Homo sapiens: one gene and its partner. The protein of the gene in region 1 binds, or shares a complex with, the protein of each later gene. Each region holds a gene or a part of one and is shown in the gene's direction. Other genes may lie near its edges. The genes, in order: RAB21 and RABGEF1.

Region 1 (6,999 bases):
GAGAAAGGAAGAGTCATTCCAAAAACTAGGTCTCATATACATTATAAGTAGTCCATAAACTCAACTTTATAACCACCACAAAATGGGTGAGGTTGTTCTTTCCCGCCTACAGAATTAAAGCTGCATTTTACCTCTGTGCAACAATTTTTCCCCATTTGATATTGTGCTGCATGTTCATTGTTAACTTGATTTCACCTGTATAATTATTCCTGTTTTTTACTGGGGGAAGAGGAGCTACATGAATTTGCACCCTATCATGCCTCAGTCCTCACCATTCAGGAATATGTTTTGAGTTATGCACTCACTGAAGTGTCCCCATATTTTTGCAGCTCTTCTCTACGGAGGAACTGGAGCTCTAGTGTTTTTTTTTTTTTGTGGCAGTCCGTGTTAAGTTTATACAGACCAATCATAGTTGACTCTAAGACTGACCTAAATTCTTAAGGGCGTAGAATCTATCCCAGAATTGGCCTGAATCTCTTTCAATGCTTTGACTGTTATGGGCTACTTGTTTTCTCACAACATACTTAAGTACGTTTCTTATGGCTGCTGTAACAAATGATCACAAACTTGGTAGCTTAATACAACACACATTTATTCTCTTTTAGTTCTGGAGGTCAGGAATCAAAATTAGTTTCACTAGGCTAAAATCAGCATATCTGCAGGGCTGAACCCCCTCCAGAGGCTCTAGGGGCTTCTTGTCTTTTCCAGCTCTGGTGGCTGTAAGCATTCCTTGGCTTATGGCTACATTGCTCCATAATCTGCCTCTATGGTCACACTGCCTTCTCCTCTTCTGGGTGTGAAGCATCTCTTTCTGCCTCTCTCTTATAAGGATACTTGTGATTGCAGTTAGGGCCCACCCAGATAATCTCCCCATCTCAAGATCCTTAACTTAAATCAAAAAGACCTGTTTCCCAAATAAGGTAACATCTACAGGCTCCGGAATCTAGGAGCTGATATCTTTAGGGGCCGTTATCAGCCTATTACAATTTACATCTATATTTACCCACTCTGTGCTCAAAAGTATGCCAACCTACTTATTGTAACCCATGAAAACTTGCACTACCTTCTTAAATGTCAACGTAAGCTAAATGTAAAAACTTATTTTAACTTCGAAAATTATTTTGGCTGAGTGTGGTGGCTTATACCTGTAATCCCAGCACTTTGGGAAGCTGAGGCTGGAGGATTGCTTGAGCCCAGGAGTTCAAGACCAGCCTGGGCAACACAGCAAGACACGCAAGATATCGTCTCTACAAAAAAAATTAAAAAATTAACCAGGTGTGGTGGCACACACCTGCAGTCCCAGCTACTCGGGAGGCTGAGGTGGGAGGATTGCTGGAGCCCAGGAGGTTGAGGTTGCAGTGAGCTGTGATTGTGGCACTGTACTCCAGCCTGGGCAGCAGAGTGAGATCCTGTCTCACAAAAAAATTATTTTGTTTTACAATAAAAAAATTTTTAATTGCTTTGATTTAGTGATAAATGCAAAGTAATGCATTTAGTTTCTAAGATGACCAAGCTGTTAAATAATCAAATGCACACAATTTGAAAAGTTGTTGAAAGGATTGGCTGTATCAAAAAGAAGAAAGGAGAAGGCTTAAAGGAAGAACACACAGCCTTCTTCATATGTTTATAGGGAATAGGGATTCGATATATAATGTATAAATATAAACAGAAATAATTAATTGCAGGTGAAGAGAGGCAGATTTCAATCCAATATGAGGAAGTGCTCAGAAAGAACAATGGAAGGTGCTCTCTCAAAATGAAGTTCTTTTCTAGTTCTGGAAGTGTCTATAAATGTGCAAAGACCCTAAGGGGAGGAATGTGGAGGAGAGAGTTGGAAAATATATCTTTAGATACAATCATGAGGATATTTTATAAAACATAGAGTCTCTTTAATGGTTGGTTCTAAACAAATCTAAAATATTATCCTTCTCCAATTCACTTTTCAAATGATAGCCAGAGTGGTCAAATCTGATTATGTCAGTCATCTTACGAAAATCCTTCATTTGCTTAAAGACCCTTTCAGTATTGATCCCCAACTTCCTCATGGTCTCTTCTGGAGTTTTTTTTTCCTCCCTAAATTCTAGTCACATTTACAGTTGCTCAACTTTAGATGCTCCTTCCTATCTAAAGCCATTGAACATGCTGTTATCTCTGTTTGCAGAGCTCTCCTGTCCTTCCTGACTAGGTTACTCTTACCCAAAGATAACTTTCTCCAGGGAAAGCTTCTCTAGCATGCTAAATCAGTTGGGTTCTCATATATGCTTGCAAGATACTCTGAACTGTTTCATCAAGATGAAAGCATTTATTGTACAATTGAGTATGTCTGTCTTCCCTGATAAAATGTAAGCTCTGTGAGGACAGAGACATTTTATCTTGTTGATCACAGTGCCTGGCATATGGTGGGCACATTTAAATATTTGTTGAATGAATTAACCGACTCTCTTTTTTTTTTTTTTTTTTTTTGAGACGGAGTCTTCCTCTGTCGCCAGGCTAGAGTGCAGTGGCGCGATCTCGGCTCACTGCCACCTCTGCCTCCCGGGTTCAAGCGCTTCCCCTGCCTCAGTCTCCCGAGTAGCTGGGATTATAGGCTTGTGCCACCATGCCCAGCTAATTTTTTGTATTTTAGTAGAGATGGGGTTTCACCATGTTGGCCAGGATGGTCTCGATCTCCTGACCTTGTGATCCGCCCGCCTCGGCCTCCCAAAGTGCTGGGATTACAGGCATGAGCCACCACGCCCGGCCTCTTTTTTTTTTTTTAACCTGGTTTGAAGTGTGAAAGAAGTTTGATTTTTAAAAAAATGTTTACCTGACACCAGGTTTCCAGTAAATTTTCAGAAATATTAGTATGATTTCTTGGAGGAGTATGGTTTCTTGGAGGCAGGCCGGGCGTGGTGGCTCACACCTATAATCCCAGCACTTTGGGAGGCCGAGGCAGGTGGATCACTTGAGGTCAGAGTTCAAGACCAGCCTGGCCAACATGGTGAAACCCTGTCTCCACTAAAAATACAAAAAGTAGCGGGGCGCGGTGGTGGGCGCCTATGGTCCCAGCTTCTCGGGAGGCTGAGGCAGGAGAATCACTTGAACCAGGAGGCAGAGACTGCAGTGAGCTGAGATCACGCCACTGCACTCCAGTCTGGGCGACAGAGCGATACTCCATCTCAAAACTAACAATACAAACAAACAAAAAAGAATGGGGATGCAGATGAGAAAAAACAAGCAATCATCGAACAAGCCACCTCAAGGTGGAGTACCATGGAACGTCAGAGGCTTCATGAAAGTCAGAAAAACTGAAGAGCACTTGGGGTTAGGAATTCAAAGGTGGGCAGCTCTTATACAGACCTTGCCCTCAACAAACCTATAGTCTAATGAGAGTCGATAAACACTTAGCAAAGTATTAATAATATCCATGGAGTGTGTAAAGCCCTAGTAAAGGAGGTATACTGGTGGTAAGAAATACCTAATTTTGTGAGGTGGGGGAATGGAAGGATGGGGGAAGGATTGGGTGGTCAGGGACGCGGTTTAAGCTGAGACTTGAAAGATGATGGAGTAGTTGACCAGGCGGTCAGAGGAACTTGGAAGCGCTATGATTCGGGATCCCACAGAGAGAGATTCAAGGGCACCTTGGCAGATATGGTTTACAGTGACCTCTGGTGTGACAGATCATTAGCATTGTGAACATGCAAAAACGATGAAGTTCTGCCCTTCATTTCACCAGAGCTGGGCTCGCCTCAAATTCCTGGTTCCTTATTCCCGCTGGCTCCCACCAACTGAAAAGCAGAGGTGGCTCGCAAGCGGCGGGGCTCTGCCCTAGATTGCCAGTAGGCGCTCGACTCACATCCAGCTCCACCCCGGGAGATGCCCCAGAAGCCCCGCCCACGTCCAGGCACGTTCTTCTGGGGCTAGTCGCAGGGGCCGCCCCGGCACCGGCGCTCACGTGACCCGAGGTGTGACGTAGGAGGAAGGAGACGCCATTAGAGGGAGGCAGAGAGGGATCGTTCTTCGCTTTTCCTCCGGTGCCTGACGTGGTGGGCTGGGGCCCTTCATTCTCGGACTTTCCCTCAGCCCTTCCAGGCCTCGCCCGAGGAGGGCGTGGGGACAGCGCCCGGGTCGGCGGGGCCGGGGCGGTGGGGGCTGAGCCGGCCGTGGCTGTGAAGGCGCTGCCGCGGCTGTCGGGAGGGCGGCGCGACACTCGGGCTCGGGCGGCCGGGAAGCGACGGGATGGCTGCGGCCGGCGGCGGCGGCGGCGGGGCGGCGGCGGCGGGCCGAGCCTACTCGTTCAAGGTGGTGCTGCTGGGGGAAGGCTGCGTGGGGAAGACGTCGCTGGTGCTGCGCTACTGCGAGAACAAGTTTAACGACAAGCACATCACCACTCTGCAGGTGCGGACCTCGGGGAGCGGGAGGGGGCGCCTCAGGGCCCCTACCCCTCCGGGGCTGGGGAAACTTTGCCGCCCTGGTCCCCTGGATGTAGGCTGGCAAATCTCAGGCCTGTCATCTCCGCCTTCGGTTTACCTTTCCGAATTCGCCCTGGGGAATCACCAGGTCGGGGCAGCCTGTAGACGCGAGGACAGGCTGTTGGGAGGGAAGTGGAAGGGCCCTGAAAAGTCCCCAGTGTTCCCCGTGGTGGCTGCGCACGTTGTGGTCTCCGTCCGTGGGCTGTTTTTTCCCATTTACTGCAGTTCCTGGGTCCCAGGTGTCAGTGTTGCAGTCTCCAAATGTTAGCTCCTTTTCTTTCTTTCAGAATTAGGAACTTAGCTGCGTATTTGATTTTGCGAATTAGGTGATTTGTAACTTCAGCGCTTACTGATGACTAAGTGTTTATGCAAGTTCCATTTTGTCCTGAGTAACAGGAATGGCAAAAGAGCCATCTCTGGAGGTTTTTTGAAATGACCGCTTGCCTAGGCGTGTTACGCAGTTTCATTGCAGCCTGCGTGGGTCTGACTTGCGGGTCACTCATATTCTGCGAGGTCGATTGACCCACGCTGAAACATCAAGTGAATACTGGCCAACAATTGGTCCCCAGACTAAAAGCCGCTGCTGTTACTCAGTTTCTTTACCTGTAAAATAAAAGGTCGGCTTTCTTCCACAGGTACATTGGAAAGGTGTTAAAATGTTATCATTGATTGAGAGTGAAGCCAGGCCTTTGAGGGAGTTGTACTCACCCCACCTCTCCCAGAGAAATCAGTTTTGATGTTATTAGGAGAAATTTATCCTACTAATTTGACTTACCAATTTGGTCAAAGGCAGTAAAGTCTAGTGGACTTTTGAGCCTGATTGTCCAGGTTCATGTCTCACCTCCATCCATTTAACTAGCTGTGTCATACTGGGTAAGTTACTTAACCTGTCTGTGCCTGTTTCTTCTGTTAAAATGGCCATAATAGTAGTATCTAGCTCATAGGGTTGTCAGGATAAATATACAGAAAAAGCACTGATGACCTGGTCCAGTGTAAGTTGTCTGCCTTTAATTACCGCCCCAACTTGCACAATAGGTCTTAATTAGTAAATGTGTAGTATGTGAGAACATCGACACTACTTAATAGAATGCGTAATCTCCTAATTGTTGTGACATTGGATGTTTGATGCTATTATTAAACTACTGAGTCTAGAATTTACAAGACGCTCTGGCTCTGATTCCATGTTCTATTTTTACTCCTCTGATTTTACTCGTATGTAAAGCATATCTGAAAAAGTGAGTGCCAGGAAACTGCATTTTTAAAAAATCCTTGTACCAGAACACTGACAAAATTTTAATAATGAATTGTTATTGTTCAGTGTCATTAGTGAGAGCCTGGTGTTTTAGATCAAGAAAATTCACTGGACAAATACCTAGGATCATTTGGAAGTTTAGAGATTTACTTAGGTAAAGTAGTAACAATAGCTAACATTTAGTGAGTTCTTACTGTGCTGATTATTTTGCTTGCTTTCTGTCTGCTTGCTTTAATTCTTATAACACCCTATGAAGTGGATAGTTTAGTGGATAGCCCTACAGCTGAGGAAAAACGTTTAGTTGAGTAATTTTGCTGGCAGTAATATTACCACAAGTCAATGGGGCAGGAGTGTCCAAGCTCAAATTTGAACCCCTGTCTGACTTCAGATTTTGAGCAATTAAATCACATTACCTCGGTATATTGATAAATAACCCATCTAGTGTTTTCCTTTATGCAAAGATCTAAGATAAAAGAAAACTATTGTAATTGAGGTCTCCACGTTTTTTTTCAAAAGATAACTTGAGTCTTGCCCTGTCGCCCAGGCTGAAGTGCAGCAATTTCCACTCACTGCAACCTCCACCTCCTGGGTCAAGTGATTCTCCTGCGTCAACCTCTCAAGTAGCTGGGATTACAGGCACACGCCACCACATCTGGCTAATTTTTTTGTATTTTTAGTAGAAACGGGGTTTCACCATGTTGTCCAGACAGGTCTCGAACTCCTGACCTCAGGTGATTTGCCCACCTTGGCCTCCCAAAGTGCTGGGATTACAGGGGTGAGCCACTGCACCTGGCCATACCCTTTCAACTTAAAAATTACACTTCCATTTTAAATTTCTAAAACATTCTTGAAACTGAAAGCAGAGTAAAGGTTTTTAAATATATGAAAAGCCACTGTACTCCACAGAGGGGAGGATGAAGTTATAGTAGATATCCAGTATTAATATCTGAATTATATTATAGAATTTAGGATTTTGTTGTACACCAATGTATGTAAACAGCAATGTGTCTAATCTCTTTCAGAGATACCAGTTAACCTCATCTTTCTTAACAATTTTTCAGAGGAATTTGATTTATGTGACTTGTAAGACACAACTTTGTATTCTTTTAATTTCCAAATGGAGAGGAAATCATGTCAGAAGATATGAGAGGAAGAGTTCACCTTTTTTCTCGTCAACAGAGTACCTGTCTATGTAAACTACTTTGTATTTTATAAAGTACATTCTCATACATTTCAAAGAATTGCAGGATTGACAGGAATTTAAGACAGTTATGTATGGATCACTATTTTGGTCTT
Region 2 (5,404 bases), on another chromosome or scaffold:
TATCCTTTTTTTTTTTTTTTTTTTTTGAGATGGAGTCTCCCTCTGTCATCCAGGCTGGAATGCAGTGGTGTGATCTCAGCTCACTGCAACCTCCGTCTCCTGGGTTCAAGTGATTCTCATGCCTTAGCCTCCCAAGTAGCTGGGATTACAGATGTGTGTCACCATGCCCGGCTAATGTTTGTATTTTTAGTAAAGACGGGGTTTCACCTTGTTGGCCAGGCTGGTCTCGAACTCCTGACCTCAAGCAATCCACCCACCTCAGTTTCCCACAGTGTTGGGATTACAGGCATGAGCCACCGCACCTGGCCTCATATTTCTTAATATAAATGAAACATACACTTGCCTACGAGGGAAGAGCGTTTTGGATTCAGTTCTTTATCCAAAGCGAGTCAGACAACCTGGAAGTCCCTGAGAAGTGTGAAGGTGGAGACATGGCAGGTATTGAGAGAAGTGGAGGAGGACCAGGACGTGTTTGAGCGTAGCCACGGTCACTGACAGTAGAGGTGGCTGGCTTGCACACACTTAGCAGCTTCTAGTGCCCTTGGCCTGCAGCCTTAAGTACATTTGTGCCTTCTCTCTTTGTCCTCTTCTTGCCTGACTCAGAGTCTGTCTCCTACACCCATTGCTCCAATGAAACTGCTCTGGCAAAAGTAAAAAGTTTCCAGCTGACGAACCCCACGGGCACTCACAGTCTTCATCTTCCTTCGCTTCTCATAGCACTCTCCAAGAGTCCTTTGTTCTGCAACTTCTGTTGTTCCTTGGCTTCCACAATTCCACTACTTCCTTGTCTCTTTGTAAAGTCTGTGTCTTCTACTTCCACCTTGAATTGTGTCATTCCATGGGACTCCATTGTCTCTGCATCTCTCTTCCTGCACCATCTTCTCTGTCACAGAGCTGTCACTCACTGTGCAGTGATGGCCTGCAGCTCTGGGTCACCTGTCTTGACCTTACACTTGTATTGCACCTCAAATATAATTTGTTCAGAGCTACTTCCCCTTCAGATGTTTGTTTCTTTTCCAGTATTCTCTATTCCTTTTAGTGGCAATGCCATGTCTCCATTCACCTAAGTGAGGAGTTAGAATCACCTCCTCTTTCCAGGTCACAGAGGGGCCACAGCAACTCCACACACACCATGAGCCAGATGGTGTTCCGTTCTACTCAGATGAATCAGATTTTTCTTTTTCTTTATTCCTTTTTTCTAGAGATGGTTTCTACCCCGACTGTTTCCCAGGCTGGTCTGAACTCCTGGTCTCAAGCAATCCTCCCACCTCGGCCTCCCAAAGTGCTAGGATTACAAGCACGAGCCAACACGCCTGGCTCAGATGTCTGTTGAATTGGGCATTTGCAGTGCCATGTCTGTACTAATAATTGCTACCGTGTATTCATTGCTCGCTGCAGGCCTCTCGGAAGCACGTGACATGTTATGTTGTTTAATTCTCACAATAAATCTAGGTGGTATTTCCCCCCATTTACAGGTACAGAAACCTCAGAGAGCTTAAGTAACTTTCCCACGGTCACTCACTGTTGTTGTTAAGTGAAAGAGGTGACAGTGAACTCAGGTTCAGTCACTTCAGAGTTGTTCCTTTTTTTTTTTTTTCCTGAGACAGTCTTGCTCTGTCACCCAGGCTGGAGTGCAGTGGCGTGATCTTGGCTCACTGCAACCTCCGCCTCCCAGGTTCAAGCAATTCTCCTGCCTCAGTCTCCCAGGTAGCGGGGATTACAGGCGCCCACAACTGCGCCCAGCTAATTTTTGTATTTTTAGTAGAGATGGGGTTTCACCATGTTGGCCAGGCTGGTCTCAAACTCCTGACCTCATGATCCACACGTCCCAGCCTCCCAAAGTGCTGGGATTACAGGCTTGAGGCACCGGGCCCGGTCTGGAGCTGTTCTTTTAACCACTTGATGTTAAAATATTCATTTGAGGATCAGAGGTCTGTGTGCCACACCTACTTGGGGACTATATCCTGGGTGGGGATAGCAGGTCTGGGAAGACTCAGACAGAATGGCTTCATGGTGCACCTGGGGAGGCTGCACCCAGACATCGGCCCTGGAGCTCCTGGGAGTGTATAGGAAGCACGACCGGGGATAGGAGTAGGTAATTTTTGAGGCTGAAATACACAGAAGTTCATGAGTTTGTTTTGTTTACTTTAGCTTCTGTTTTAAATGGTCTGTGATCAAAAGATTTTTACAAATCGACTCGAGTATGCATAGCTTTCCTAATATGACTGTATTAACGTCCTCTTCTTGTAGTGCTGTGCTGTGGCTTTCATTGAGAAGCTAGACGCCCAGTCTTTGAATCTAAGTCAGGAGGATTTTGATCGCTACATGTCTGGCCAGACCTCTCCCAGGAAGCAAGAAGCTGAGAGTTGGTCTCCTGATGCTTGCTTAGGCGTCAAGCAAATGTATAAGAACTTGGATCTCTTGTCTCAGTTGAATGAACGACAAGAAAGGATCATGAATGAAGCCAAGAAACTGGAAAAAGACCTCATAGATTGGACAGATGGAATTGCAAGAGAAGTTCAAGACATCGTTGAGAAATACCCACTGGAAATTAAGCCTCCGAATCAACCGTTAGCAGCTATTGACTCTGAAAACGTTGAAAATGATAAACTTCCTCCACCACTGCAACCTCAAGTTTATGCAGGATGATCACAATTTAGTGGAGAGTATTTATTTGAGCCTAAATTGTAGGTAGCCCTTACTACACTCAACTGATTGGGATCTAGAATGTAACTAAATTGCTTATAAATGTCAGCATTTTTTAAAGGTACAGTATATGGGGATTGTTTCGTTTTTCCTAGCAGGGGAACCTTAGTTAATAATAAAATACTACTTATTTGAGTTACTGATACAGATTCATTTAAGGCTTGTGTGCAAATTTTGTCTCAATCTTTTTTCCCTCCATGATTTTCCTATGTGCTTCCTCTGGCATTCACTGTGGTTTTGGTAAATAATTGCCTTTTAAAGGATTAAACAAATGAATGCTACAAAGTGTATGTTCAAGAAAATTAAATGGTACCACTCTTCCACAGTTTGGAATAATTTTATAATTGTAAAGATAGAAATTATATTGATAAGTAAATATGTAAAATTGTAAATATGTAAAAAAAAGAATGGTGTCTGCTGTGCATGGCATTTTATATGTTAATTTTTTAGTTTAAAATGAAGTATATTGAATGTTTGCCTTTAGCACCATTTTATTTGGTTTGTCCCACTAAAATGACTCGAGAAGTGTTTAGACAAACTCCCCTTAAGATGTGCACTCCATCTTTAAGAACGTGTTAGCCTTAACTTTGAGGTTCTATATAGTCAGAGACTATGACACCACTAAGGTTCAGAATAAAGTTTAGGCCACATAAAATTGCTGTTTAATGTAGTCGATGGAAGACTTTAAACTATGCTTCTAGCTTATTTTTCCCTCATTCATTCAGCAAATCTCTATTGAGTTCTTCAGTGAGAAGGAGCAGGCACTGGGCCTGGAATGGAAGGCGGGAATGAATGGGCCTCTGATGGTGAGAGGTGACGGGGTCCCTCAGCTGTGAGATGCAAGGGGCGCCTTGCAGCCTCCATAATATACATTTGACTTTGCAAACGTCTAGACATGTTTTCTGAACCTTTTTCAGGACATTTCAACCTCGGGACTATTCATATTAGTGGCCTGAGAGGTGTTTGTTGTGGGGCCACCCTGTGCATGGTAGAATGTTCAGCAGCATTCCTGCCATCCATATCCATTAGGTGCCAGTAGCACCCCCGCTAGAGCTGTGAAAAATTCTCTCCAGACATAGTCAGATGTCTCCTGGGGCCATATCACCCCTCCGTTAAGAACCACTGATGTCTTTTACAAACCAGGAGTTATCCTCCTGGTGGTTAATATGGTGTAACCAAAGAATCTTGCACTCAATGCACAGTGTGATGTTAACTAAAACGAGTTAAATATTTAGGAGGCTTGACAGCTACCTGCATTGTAGAACCTTTTCTTATCTCAGTGGAACCTTCTATAACCTAAATATACCATTGATGATTCTTCTTCCATTCAGTGACATCCACAGATTATGCAGCTATACTTGTGAAATCGTGCATGAGGCCCCAGGGCACCGTTCTAGAACAACGTCACTTCACACAGGCAGCTGAGAAAGGTTCTCTTGCTTTTCCAGTATCTTCCTAAGGATGGAGCCCAAAATTGCAGAGCAGTAACTTTGGAATAAAACCAGGGTGGGTATAAAACTTCTTATTCTTAAATTTACATATAAGATCTATTAAGCTTGACACATCTGTGTCATCACGCACTGAAGACAGGAAGCAGTTCACTGAGTCAGCTGGTTCCCAAGCTCGCACAGAAGGTGATAAGTTACTATCAAATGCCAGTGAGAATCTTCTTATAGAATAACCTGGGCCCAAGTGATTTTAGTACAAAACTTGCCCTTCTTTGGTTTAATTTTCTATGTGCTTTTAGGTGTGAATCCAGATATGCGGTCTTAATTCCTTTGGAAATACACAGTTCGTTTAGTTACTGTACACTCTGTTTGTTCAATAAACTGCATATCAACTTCCCACAAAAGCTGACTTTTTTGGGTCTCTTACATATAAAGTAGGTTATTGAGTTGATTTTTTTGGAGGTATCTCATATTGGTCGAATTCTTCTGGTATGGACTCTTGCCTTATATAGAGGCTTCTATTTCTCTTAAGTCAGCATCAATACAACGGCCGGAGTTTCTGTTTTTGCAATAAGAAGATGTTGGTATTTTATGTAGGGTAAATGTGACTGGAATACACCTTTGGAACGGAATTCTTTATCAATAAAGTTTCACAATCCGTCCCTCTTCCAAAAATTGATTTGGTTCTTTCTTAGGAAAATATACATTATTATTAATATTCTCATGCTACAGAGGTTTTCTGGTTAAGCTATACCTAAAAATGAAACATTAGAGACATTTGTCAGTTAAAATTAAGAAGACAAGAATATTTGCTGTCACCACAATCAATCAACCTTGTTCTTGCAGTTCTACCAAGGTACTCAGTCTTCAAACAGACATAAAAGTAGAGAAAAAAGGAGTTAATGTAATCAATATAGAGCTATTATTGTCTGTTGGTGAGGACATGAACTCTGAAGCTGGAAGGCTTGGATTTGGTTTTGAATTTTATTCTGCTACTTATTAGCTCATTGGCCCTGAACAAATCTCTTGTTTCAGATCCCTCAGCTGTGAAATGGGGTTAATAATATTACTGCTTCATGGGGTTGTTGTCTGAACTTAGAACAAATGATAGCTATTATTTGTAGATGGTTATTTTATGTAGAAAACCCAAGAGAAGGCTGGGTGTTGTGGCTCACGCCTGTAATCGCTTTTGGAGGCAAGGCAGGAGGAATGCTTGAGGCCAGGAGTTTGAGAGCAATGTCAGCAACATA

The links.
Region 2: the proteins of RAB21 (region 1) and RABGEF1 are in contact, whole or in part, in a crystal structure (PDB 2OT3), measured with the Homo sapiens proteins. Residues at the interface, in NP_055814.1 of Homo sapiens: Ser19 (codon at 4,273), Phe20 (codon at 4,276), Lys21 (codon at 4,279), Gly26 (codon at 4,294), Glu27 (codon at 4,297), Gly28 (codon at 4,300), Lys32 (codon at 4,312), Thr33 (codon at 4,315), Leu37 (codon at 4,327), Thr50 (codon at 4,366), Thr51 (codon at 4,369), Leu52 (codon at 4,372), Gln53 (codon at 4,375), Ala54, Ser55, Phe56, Ala71, Trp73, Asp74, Thr75, Ala76, Gly77, Gln78, Arg80, Phe81, Leu84, Ile87, Tyr88, Asp91; in NP_001273991.1 of Homo sapiens: Leu253, Cys254, Lys296, Phe299, Asn300, Lys303, Pro309, Ala310, Ser311, Ala312, Asp313, Phe315, Leu316, Pro317, Ile320, Leu347, Met348, Thr349, Gly350, Glu351, Gly353, Tyr354, Tyr355, Thr357, Asn358, Cys360, Cys361, Ala364, Phe365, Ser373.

The regions. Positions count from the first base shown.
Region 1 is NC_000012.12:71,750,912-71,757,910, forward strand, and holds the start of RAB21 (ras-related protein Rab-21), read left to right. Parts: upstream 1-3,951; 5' UTR 3,952-4,218; coding exon 4,219-4,377; intron 4,378-6,999. UniProt on the Homo sapiens protein: The small GTPases Rab are key regulators of intracellular membrane trafficking, from the formation of transport vesicles to their fusion with membranes.
Region 2 is NC_000007.14:66,806,636-66,812,039, forward strand, and holds the end of RABGEF1 (rab5 GDP/GTP exchange factor), read left to right. Parts: intron 1-1,202; coding exon of another isoform or gene 1,203-1,241; exon of another isoform or gene 1,242-2,250; coding exon 2,251-2,649; 3' UTR 2,650-4,829; downstream 4,830-5,404. UniProt on the Homo sapiens protein: Rab effector protein acting as linker between gamma-adaptin, RAB4A or RAB5A. Involved in endocytic membrane fusion and membrane trafficking of recycling endosomes. Stimulates nucleotide exchange on RAB5A. Can act as a ubiquitin ligase.